2 linked regions of the Homo sapiens genome follow. The protein of the gene in region 1 purifies or fractionates together with the protein of each later gene. This does not show direct contact. Each region holds a gene or a part of one and is shown in the gene's direction. Other genes may lie near its edges.

Evidence for each region.
Region 2: the proteins of CLIP4 (region 1) and MYORG purify together in Homo sapiens (affinity purification with mass spectrometry; 2 studies listed by BioGRID and IntAct, with this or other methods). This does not show direct contact.

What each region holds. Positions count from the first base shown.
Region 1 is NC_000002.12:29,181,415-29,184,308, forward strand, and holds the end of CLIP4 (CAP-Gly domain-containing linker protein 4), read left to right. Parts: exon of another isoform or gene 1-151; intron 152-157; coding exon 158-479; 3' UTR 480-2,394; downstream 2,395-2,894.
Region 2 is NC_000009.12:34,373,273-34,381,609, reverse strand, and holds the start of MYORG (myogenesis-regulating glycosidase), read left to right. Parts: upstream 1-4,711; 5' UTR 4,712-4,817; exon of another isoform or gene 4,818-5,553; intron 5,554-8,337. Other genes in the region: SPMIP6 (sperm microtubule inner protein 6), read left to right, coding at 166-241, 479-713, 1,878-1,964, 2,429-2,534.

The sequences.
Region 1 (2,894 bases):
GCTATTTAAAATTTAAAAATCAAGTTGTGACCATAAAGTATTCTCTTTTGGGAACTGAGTGAATGAATTCTGAATCTGGCAGTGGAAATGAATATGATGCATTGCATTACGTGGCTTCAGCACTAAATAATTTTTCCCACTTTTCCCTTCCGCACAGATCGAAAGCTGCTTTGCGTCGCAGTTGGAGCAGCACCCCCACCGCAGGTGGCATTGAAGGGAGCGTGAAGCTGCACGAGGGGTCTCAGGTCCTGCTCACGAGCTCCAATGAGATGGGTACTGTTAGGTATGTGGGCCCCACTGACTTTGCTTCAGGTATCTGGCTTGGACTTGAGCTCCGAAGCGCCAAGGGAAAAAATGATGGGTCAGTGGGTGACAAGCGCTATTTCACCTGTAAGCCGAACCATGGAGTCTTAGTTCGACCGAGCAGAGTGACCTATCGGGGAATTAATGGGTCAAAACTTGTGGATGAGAATTGTTAAGCTTCTAAAATATTAAATAAGCTCAAATATATATATTTGGTGTAAATAAAGAGTCCATGGTAAATGGTTTACTTTATTTAGCCATATTAAAATTTTGAAAATATAGTTATCTTCTTAAAAACCATTATAACAATTCAGAGAGAGTTCTTTACAAAGCCATGAATATGAACTATGGGGAATCATGGTTCTTTTAAAGCAATTTTCAAAATAAGTACCAATTAAAGCTTTAGGTTCCAAGAAGATTCTGGGACTCAGGAAGAAAAAGTGCCATCAGGTGACCAGCTGTTGCATTTCTTGCTTATTCTGTTTTGTTTTTGCACATCATAATGGATTTTTCTTAGTGCCCTAATTGTGAAGGGTTTCTCTAGCTTTGGTTATGTGTAATGTTCACGTGACCTTTTTTTGTCAATCATTTTTGGAATTTTTCTTTCTTTCTGTGCTTTATTACTAATAAGTCCAATGAGTGAGTAGTAGCTAGATGACTAGTATGTAGTTTTATATTTTGGTAAAATTATTTGCCCTTTCAGAAATGCCTCATCTAAAGATACATGATAATTTTGGAGTTGGAAGGGGCCTTAGAGGCTCTCCAGCTCTGCTTCTTGCCCATTGCCAAATACTGAAATGGAAGCCCGTCTTACCTGGGGTCACTAACTGGTTGGTTAACTGAGCTAAGAATAGACTGTGGGTCTCCTCACTTGTGGCCCAGTGCTCTTTCTGCTATACAAAATGTCTAATCTCAGATTTTTCTTCTGCTGCTTGACTGCTTCATCTGGATGAACTACAAAAAACCCATGATTAAGGTTTATGAATTCAAGTAATAATTAGATTTTTTTTGCACAGACTTACTTAACTTCCTTATTGGATATGTTTGTAACACATAAACACAAAGCACTTTTCAAACATGATGCACTTTTATCTTTGTGAATAATTTACTGTCCTTTCCTCCTGGGATATGAGAAACATTTTAAAAAACGTATTTAACAGAAGAGAGCAAATAAAGATATATCAGGAAGGATGTATTAGTTATTTACTTAAATGTTTATAATATCTGGATTTTTTTTGTTTTGTTACTCATAGAACTGGTGTTGTTTGCTGTTTTTATTTCTCTAATTGTTGCAGAGTTCTGCCTGTTACAAAGCTACAGAACTGTATTGTTTTTATTTTCCTTCTTGAGCACATGTTAACAAACTAAGCTTCACATTAGAGTGATGTCATAATGTAAAATGTTTGCATTGTGGTTAGGTATTGAAGTTTATGTCCTGTCTGTGTAAAGATTCATCTTTTATTGTAAATATTTAGACTTTACCACAGAAATATTGGAACAGTTTGCTTTATAAGATTAAAAAGCATCCTTCAGAATGGAGCTTGCCTTGTGCTTAGAAATAATATGTTGAACTATTTTGCAATATACTATTTTAAATCTAAATTCTGTCACTTCGCTGCCTTTTTAAAATAGTGTGGTATTTCAAATATTGCTAGAGCTATTTTCCTGAAATACATTTGCAAAATAAGGCTGCTTTGTAATCAAGGAATATTTTTATTGATTGAAGGAAATGACTGTACTGCGATTCAAAAGTAAACTTATTTTATTATACAGATTATTTCTTAAAAACTCTATTTATACCTTAACATGAAATCCATGACCACACCAAACTTGGTTATTCATAATTTTTCCTGTTAAATATAAAACACTGTAAGTTAAAAACAGTAATGCCAACATTGAATTTATTTTTGAGGTCAAAGAACCAGTTGTTCTCTTTATATTTAGATGAGGATGATTGAGTCCATATACTATGTATGTTTACATATACTATACATGCACATTAGGTGTTTTCATTTGTGTTTTGCTTATGAAATGTCATTTAAAGTTCACTTCTTGAGCATCAATAAAAAGGGAAGCTGTGTGGTTTTGGAATGGTATCTTGTCATTTACCCTATTTGCAACTCTGCTTTTCTCAGTAACTCAGGGTGCATATGCTTTGAACTTTTTCCTCACGGTAATGGCTTGGATTTGTCCTGTCCCTATAAAGAGTATTAAAAAGTATCATGCTTTCTACTCAACAGTCTATGTTCATAGCCACCATCCTATTAGTATTGTTTTGATGAATAGTGAGTCATTTAAGAAAAGAACGTATTTCTACAGTTGGGATTTCACTTGTTTATTTAGGGTAGGATGGAACACTTTGAATTTAGATTAAAAAATAGAAATAATTAGCTGCCTTTTACTAAAAAACTTTGTTTTTATATTTAGGGTGATTTGGGGGGAATATTTTTAAGTATGTAAGAATGTTGAGTACTGCTGTTTGCTAACTGTGAACTCTGGTGTTGTAATCTTGTTGTGAGTCTCTGGCACCTCCTCCCAAGAGCTCCTTGTTTCCCTCTCATGTTTTATTTTTCTCTTTAGCATTTGGTCAT
Region 2 (8,337 bases), on another chromosome or scaffold:
GTTGCCCGGTGACAGCCGCCAACACAGAGCCCTGGAGAGGTGGGGAGCTGCTGAAGGGCGGGAGAAGTTGCGGCGTGGCGATAGGTCTGGGTGTTCTGGGAGGACCCCTAAAAGGGAGCAGCTCTGCCAGGTCAGAGCTTGAGGTAGCATGTGTGCCGCTTCCAGGAGGCCAGGATGGAGACAGCAGTTCGAGGAATGCCCTTGGAATGCCCTCCTAGGCCGGAGCGGCTCAATGCCTACGGTAAAGAGTGGTAGTGGGGCGTTGGAAAGAACGGGTGGAGAGGGTTGGGGAAGGCCGGGAGGAGGGCGGGATGGGTACCTGAAGGACGGGGAGGAGGCCGAGGGTCCTGGAGAGGGTGGAACCCTGAATCTATCCGTCCTGGCTTTTGTCTCCGCCTCACTCTGTCCGTGACTCGGCCTCTTCCCATCCCTGTGCATCTGTCTTTGGGTCTCCTGCGCTGGGGACCCGCGGGAGCAGAGCGCGAAGTGATGGTGAACATGCTGAACTCACTGTCGCGGAACCAGCAGCTGCCGCGGATCACGCCCCGATGCGGGTGCGTGGACCCGCTGCCCGGCCGCCTGCCCTTCCATGGTTACGAAAGTGCTTGCTCGGGCCGCCACTACTGTCTGCGCGGGATGGACTACTACGCCAGCGGGGCGCCCTGCACCGACCGCCGCCTGCGGCCTTGGTGCCGGGAGCAACCGACTGTAAGGTTCGCAGGGCTCCGCCCGCCTCAGCCGGGCTCCACCCCACACAAGCCCCGCCCCAGAACCCCGCCCCCTTCCAGCCCGGCCAGCTTCCGTGCAGGCCCCCAGCCTGCTCTAGCCCCGCGCTGCACGCTCTCGAGGCCCTGCCGTGTCCCGCCCTCGGGCTCCAAGGCCTGAACTAACAACTGAGGCGGGAGAACCAGCACGAAGGTTACTCCAAGTCCCCGACCCCTGTCCCTCTCAAACTGGGCTCAAGGTCAACCTGGCCTCTCTATATGCTCTGGAGGTCCCGTCAGAGGGTTTTTGAGGAAGAAACCCCGCACATCAGTCGCATCCTCTTCCCCCATCTCCTTGGCCCTGCCCCCTTTCCTGGACTCCTGGCCCTAGAGACGCAGGTTCTAGCCTGTGGAGTGCCCTGCGTTCTCAGAAAAATGTCCTCTCTTGCTGGTCCCCCGTCACCGTCGGTAGTGGGTGCGGTCATTCCTGGGGGCTACGTGAGCCGGGAAATGGTGACCACTTTACCAGAATGGCTCTGGCCTCCTCGGATCCCGCACCACCTGCGGAGGTAGGCACCCTCGCGTGTTACTGCTAAGAAAACTGAGGCCCGAGCGCACAGCTGGAGCCCAGACTGCAGCTCGGCATTCGTCCTGCACGCGGCGGCAGCCAAGCCTGGGAGAACTTTGTCCGCGGTAGCCCAGAGAGCTGTGCAGTGGGGGTCCATAGTGATCCCCCGCCCCTCTCCAGGCCGAGAGAGCCTGATTCATTGTGCAAGACTGAGTCTTATCCCTCTCAAGGGCATAGGGGAGTGGGAAAGTGTCTGAGCCTCTAGGAAGCTCAGAAATGATGCCTCGTCCTACTGCTGGAGAAATTGCTGTCCAGTGGCGGGGATCCGGTGGTTCCAGGTCCTCAACGCCCGGAGCCCGACCTTCCCCAGGGTCCAGCGCTCTTTCCTCAACGGCAGAAATGAGGCCTTGCCGGGAGGGAGTCTTCCAAGGGGGGTTCCCGAATCGGTGCTGCAGTGGGGGTTTTGAAGGGTGAGGAAGAAGGAGAGGAGGATTTCCGAGCCTTGGGACGGACACCTGAAGCGCCGCCCAGGGGCTTGGTCTAAATCGGGGGATGAGAGTCAAAAGGCCCAACCCCTCCATGCTCGCGGCTTCCTCCTTCTCCAGATGTGTACCTCCCTACGAGCACCGGCCCGGAATGCAGTGTGCTGTTACAACTCCCCCGCCGTCATACTACCCATATCCGAACCTTAGGTAAGTCTAACGCGCACACACTCATTTGCACACGCACCCTGAAGGCTTGGTGAGGCGGGGCTGGGGGAGGATGTCTGGTAGACGGGATGAGAACGCTCCGCGGTGCACTGACAGGCACATACCACGAGGGGGAGCTAGTGGCATGGAGCAGTCAAAGGTGGTAAGGACAGAGGACCTTAAGAGAGGGCTAGGAGGCCGGTATTGAAGGGTTACAGGTTGGCAGTGGGCTTACAGCCAAAGGCGTTGGTTCAGAGCTTGAAGTAATGAGTAAGAAGTCGATGTTAAGGAGGAAATATTGGGTATCAGCAACTTAACAGTAGAACCTAAGGTCAGGAGGTCAGTATTGGAACCCAAGGTCAGTGCTATAGACAAAGTGTAGGGATAAGGTTAGCATTGCAAACTGGAGTCAGATATTCACTTTGACATATGAGGATCCAAAACGGCTGACCCATCTCTTCCTGTAGATGGGACACAAGTCACTTCAAGAAGTCTGGTGGTCCCCAGAGAAACAACTATGTTATCCATCCTGAGTTTGTGTCTGAGACCTATCCCGACTATCGTTGCTGGTAGAGCCTGGGCTTGCTGTGCCAAGGGGGCAGAGCAATAAATAAACTCTTCAACCCCAAAGCCTGCCTCCTGTGTCCTTACCCAGCAGGATCTGGAAGTGAAGGGCCAGTCACTCAGGCCTCTATCAAACCCCTTCAACTGAGATGCAATTTTTCTCAAAGTCACCCTTCCCTGGGCCCTTCCAACCCCATCATCTCAGTACATCCCTGAGTGCCCTCCTGACACAGAACAGTAGCCTTATATCCAGCTGCTATCCTCCTCCCCTGAATCCCAGAGCCCAAACGGATGGGTCCACCCTGCAATGCAGGCAGGAGCCATCTACTTTCCACCCCACGAAGACCCTCCAGCTAACATTTCTTCAGTATGCTCCCAAACTTAGATGCCCTCCCACTCATCAGAGGACCCAGAATCCTTCCTTCCACAGTCAAAGACCTATCCCTACACCCAAAGCTCTTGATCTCTGCTTCCAGGAGTCCCCATCACAGCCTCCCAAAAGCCTCTCTGTGCTCAGACACCCTTGCTGCACAAGGTGTGTCCCCCATTCCAAGTCCAACTGGTCAAAACATAATTTTGGAGGGTCTCATGACAAAGAAATTTCAAGTTGCAAAACAAAGCCCTGTTTCTCTGCCCCTCAGGGAGCGAGAAGGGGCCATTCTAAAATCTCTGTGATCTTCAGTATTTTTATTTCTGCATCAAATAGATATGAAACCAGCTGGGTGCAGAGGCTCACACCTGTAATCTCACCACTTTGGGAGGCAGAGGCAGGAGGATCACTTGAGCCCAGGAATTCGATACCAGCTGGGGCAACATAAAGAGACCCCTTCTCTACAAAAAAATTTAAAAATTAGCAGGGTATGGTGGCACACACATGTGGTCCAAGTTACTCAGGAGCCTGAGGCGGGAGGGGATAGCTTGAACCAAGGACATTGAGGCTGCAGTGAGCTATGTTAACGCCACTGCACTCCAGCCTGGGCGACAGAGCGAGACCCTCTCTCAAAAAAATAAAGACCGGACGCGGTGGCCCACACTTGTAATCCCAGCACTTTGGGAGGCCGAGGCAGGTAGATCACCTGAGGTCAGGAGTTTGAGACCAGCCTGACCAACATGGTGAAACTCTGTCTCTACTAAAAATACAAAATTAGCCAGGCGCGGTGGTGCGTGCCTGTAATCCCAGCTACTTGGGAGGCTGAGGCAGGAGAATTGCTTGAACCCGGGAGGCGGAGTTTGCAGTGAGCTGAGATCGTGCCATTGTACTCCAGCCTGGGCAACAAGAACGAAACTCAAAAATAAATAAATATAAAAATAAAATAAAATAAAAAAGAAATGAAACCTCAGAGTCTTGCCCAGCCCCCGGGGAGAGGGGCATGGCGGGGCACACCCACTTTCCCGCAGCTTGGGCATTTCTAACTAAAGGCTGTAACTTAGGAGGAGGGGCTGGACCCTATAAATAACTAGTCTGGGGGTAGCGGTCTGGGAGGCGGGTGACGTTGCAAAACACCGAGCAGAAACCGGTCTTCTCAGTCCCTGACCTCGGACACCGCTGGTTTGGTCCGGTGGGAACCGACAGCTTGGACTCGCGGCGGGTTGGAACTACAGCTCCCTCCGTGGGGCCCTCGATTGGAAGCACCTGCATTGGGAGCTGAGATACTCGCGGAATTCCGCCACCACTTTTCCGTATGGAAAGCTGAGGGCTTGTGAGAGCGTTATACCGATATGGCCTCCACCTGTCCAAACCGGGAAGGAAGGAATTCCAATGGCCAGCTCTGCTCCTTTACCCTGCAGCTCTCTCCCTCTCATCCTCATTCCAAACCTAGCCTAGAGGTGCAAGAACCCCAACCTTCCGCAGCTGCTCCTTTCTGCAGAACTACATGTCCCAGCAGGCCTGGGGCCGAGCCCCGCCCGCTTGCGGGTTAGCAGTGGCCCAGGAGGGGCGGGCCCGCCGGCGGGAGTCGGAGCCGCGGGGCGCAGGACTGAGCAAGCCTGAAATGCCAGGGGCAGAGCACAGAGCGGTGGGAGGAAGGTGGGGCTGAGGGGCGGGGCCACAGATCCGCCTGATAACCTGGGAGGAGGGGTCGAACGTCAAGGGCAGGGCTGGACTCTGAGGCCCGAGACGAGACTGGATGACTGGGGCGTGGCCGAGGAACCCCAGGGCGGGACCCGAGGAGGGGCTGTGCCCTGCCAGACAGAGCCCCGCGCGGCGCGGCGGCAGCTTCACTCTGGTTCAAGCGCAGGGGATCGGCGGGAAGCTCTTTCACCCCCGCTTCTGCCGGGCTGTAACTGCAATGGGTGAGCCCAGCGGGAGGGCTGTGGGGGGCGGGGGGCTGCTGAAGGAGCACGATTCCTGAACTTTCGCTCCCACCGATGAATGGGTGGAGCGAGCCTGAACACCTGGGCCCATCCCACGGCCGCGATTCCCGCGGGGCGACAGGTCCCTTGACCTCGGTCGGCCCCTTCGGACAGTATAGCCTTCAGGGCGGGGTAGGGAGGGCGGCTGTGGAGTATTCCAGGCTATGTAGGCAGTCACTCGATCCCCGCGGATACCGTCGCCTGGCAGGAGAGGGAGATGGGCCGGATCGAGTTGCCTTTGACATTTCCATCCCCCCGGGAACTGTGTCCAACTAACGATTCTACTTGGAATGGCCTCCCCTCAGTTGAGTCGGGCGGGGCCCTCCCCCTCAGACCAGACTAGCTGTGGCAGCCAAGGCTGAGGTTGAGTGTCCGGTGGGGAGAGGCTCAGCAGGGGCAGAGCCCAGACTCCACCTGGCGGAGGCGGCAGATTACAGAGGTCTCTGGCACCACTGTTAACACCGGAACCACAGACTTCCTCCCCCAAAGCCCCGGTACCAGATGCCATTAAAATTGCCCTCTTTGCTGCCCTCGTGGTCTTCGTGGTCCGCGTGGAGCAAGCAGCAGCACCAGCCCTTGGAAAGACAGGCCTCACCATGCCATGTCCATCTGATGGAAGCTGGTCCCACCAGCTCAGCCCCAGGGCTCCTTTCTGCTACTGCATTCAGGCAGCCAGGTCAGATCATTATCTCCCATCTCCTAAAACTTACACTGTGGAGAGCTGGGCTGGGATTTTAGATCCAGGCAGCCTTGATACCTGGCTAACTTCAGACAAGTTCCTTTTTCTGTTTGGGCCACGTTTCCTCACCTGTAAAATGGACACTGCAGCTATGTCTGCTGTTCCACATTGTTGATAGAACTGGATGCTGTGGTGACATTTGGGACACTATCATGGTGCCTGGGGTGGGTGGGTGCCCAGGCCTGTGGGCTTCTGTCTTTCATCAAAGAACTTCAGATCCCAGAAAATTAAGATTCTCAAAACATAACTGTCGGAAAGGGCTTTTGAATCCACCTTGGTGGCCTCTTCCTGCCTCCAGGGCTCATGAGATAGGCTGACTTCATATGAAAGTTTTGAGGATGAGGAAGTCTCTCTCCTCTTCAGATACTGACCCTCTCTCTCCTTATTTCCTTGGTGCCCAGAATAGGGCTTTGGTTATCTTGAATGAATGAATATAAACTCACAGGTGTGATCTGAGCCACCTAAAGCCTTCTTTGGGTTCTGCTCAGCTTGAGGGCATCACCTAAAGGCCACTGGCTGCATTTTCCAGGAGGTGTTTTCTAAGCTGTATCTATATAGGAATGGGGAGGAAAGCTAAGTCATTGTAGACTGAGAGAAAGGGAATAAGAGTCTGTTCCAGACCAGCTAGGGCTGACAAGCTTAGGCAGCTGGGGGCAGAGGGCACTGAGAATGAGGCCCTGAGCTAGCACCGTGTGGGAAGTGCCTATGGGAGGAGCTGTGTATTGACATTTAGGATCAAATTCTGCTCCACACCTTGCATTCTTGCATGGGGGAGGTGAAAAACCTGAGTATTTCCGGCATCTCCTTGGAAGTCCCTGGGGACTTAGAGACAGACACTGGCATCTGGGAGGAGGCTAATTACTGTTTGCTAGTCTCCTTCTCTTCTTCCCCCGAGCTGGAGCAGTTGGGCAACCAACTGGCTGGCTGTGTGTATGCCCGTGTGTGCACCTGGGTGGTGCTATTTCTTTGTTGGACTCTGCTCTGAAGCCTGGGACAGGAACGGTCAGTGGCCTTGAGTGGCAGAGTAGGACACACCTCTTCCCCTGAGCCTGTGTTTCCCTGTAGTCATATCTGTATTTTTTTTTTTTTTTTGAGATAGGGTCTCACTTTGTCACCTAGGCTGGAGTGCAGTGGCACAATCTTGGCTCACTGCAGCCTTGACCTCCTGGGCTCAAGCGACCCTCCCACCTCAGCCCCCCAAGTAGCTGGGACTACAGGTGCACACCACCATGCCTGGCTAATTTTTTTTTTTTTTTGTATTTTTGGTAGAGACAGGGTTTCAACATGTTGCCCAGGCTGGTCTCAAACTCCTGAGCTCAAGAGATCTGCCCTCCTTGGCCTCCCAAAGTGCTAGGATTACAGGCATGAGCACCGTGCATGGCCTCATATCTGGATATTTAGCATATAGTGTGTCAGAGTTTATGTGTGTTAGTGGTAGTGGTGGGTGTCTGATCCCTGGAGAGCAGGTAGGTGGAGGAGGTGCGCTGGGCCAAGCTAGGTGGGTGAAATCTCCTGAAGCAGGTGGCCTAAAGGATTTAGGTTGGGGAAGGAACGAGCTTGGTAATCACAAGATAGGCTTGGCTGGAAATGGAATCAGAATGGTAGCTGAGAACACATCATGCCTGGAGCCTCCAGTGCAAAGCAAACACTTTTAAATTTCATCATGGAAGCAATGAGCAGCTCTCGAAGCTAGGGATAGATATGGTTTGATAAGTGCTTTAGAAAGATCACTATGGTTGCCGTGATCAGAAGGCACTGGTGAGAAAGAAGTTAGAGTCAGAGAGGCCTGTTGGGGGAAGCGTTTGGTAATACAGGGGAGAAGTGACAGTGCCCAAACTATGACAGAAACAGGACAGTGGGTGAAACAGAGCGAGGAAGTAGCTGGCCCACAGATGTGGTGCCAGGAGCAAAGCAGGAAGGCAGGCATGGAAATGGATTTGGTGATGGATGATGGCTGAGAGCAGGGTGAGTTTGAGGGCAAAGAGAAGCAGATGTGAGAAACAACTGGCCCCCCATGCCAGGCTCCTGCCCCAGGCCCTAATGTCTGAACCCAACTCTACCTCCCTCCAAACCAGGCCCTGGGACTAAGTCTGGCTTTGGGTGTCTTCTTCAATCTCCAGACTTCATCAGGCTTTTGACTCAGGATAAAAACACATCCCTGAGCTGTTCTCCCTTCCTCCCTCCTCTCCCCCTCTGGGGACAGGGAAGCTAGCCTACCGCCCTGTTAAAAGTCTCAAGGGGGACTGGGCGAGGTGGCTCACGCCTGTAATGCCAGCACTTCTGGAGGCTGAGGCAGGTGGATCACTTGAGGTCATGAGTTCGAAGCCAGCCTGACCAACATGGTGAAACCCTGTCTCTACCAAAAATACAAAAATTAGCTAGGTGTGGTGGTGTGCGCCTTTAATCCCAGCTACTCGGGAGGTTGAGGCAGGAGACCCGCTTGAACCCAAGAGGCAGAGATTGCAGTGAGCTGAGATCATGCCACTGCACTCCAGTCTGGGTGACAGAGAGAGACTCCATTTCAAAAAAAAAAGTCTCAAGGAGCTGGCTGGACAATACCCCCTCTCCCACCCTGACCATCCACACCTCTAGGAGAGCAGGACTTTTCTAGTTCCTTTCCCGTCTCTTCAGCCCGAACGGCCCCATGTGTGATCTGGGGAGGCCTGGCTTATCCTGTGATCCTGGAAAGCTTCCTGACCCTCTCAGGGTTTGTTTCTCCAC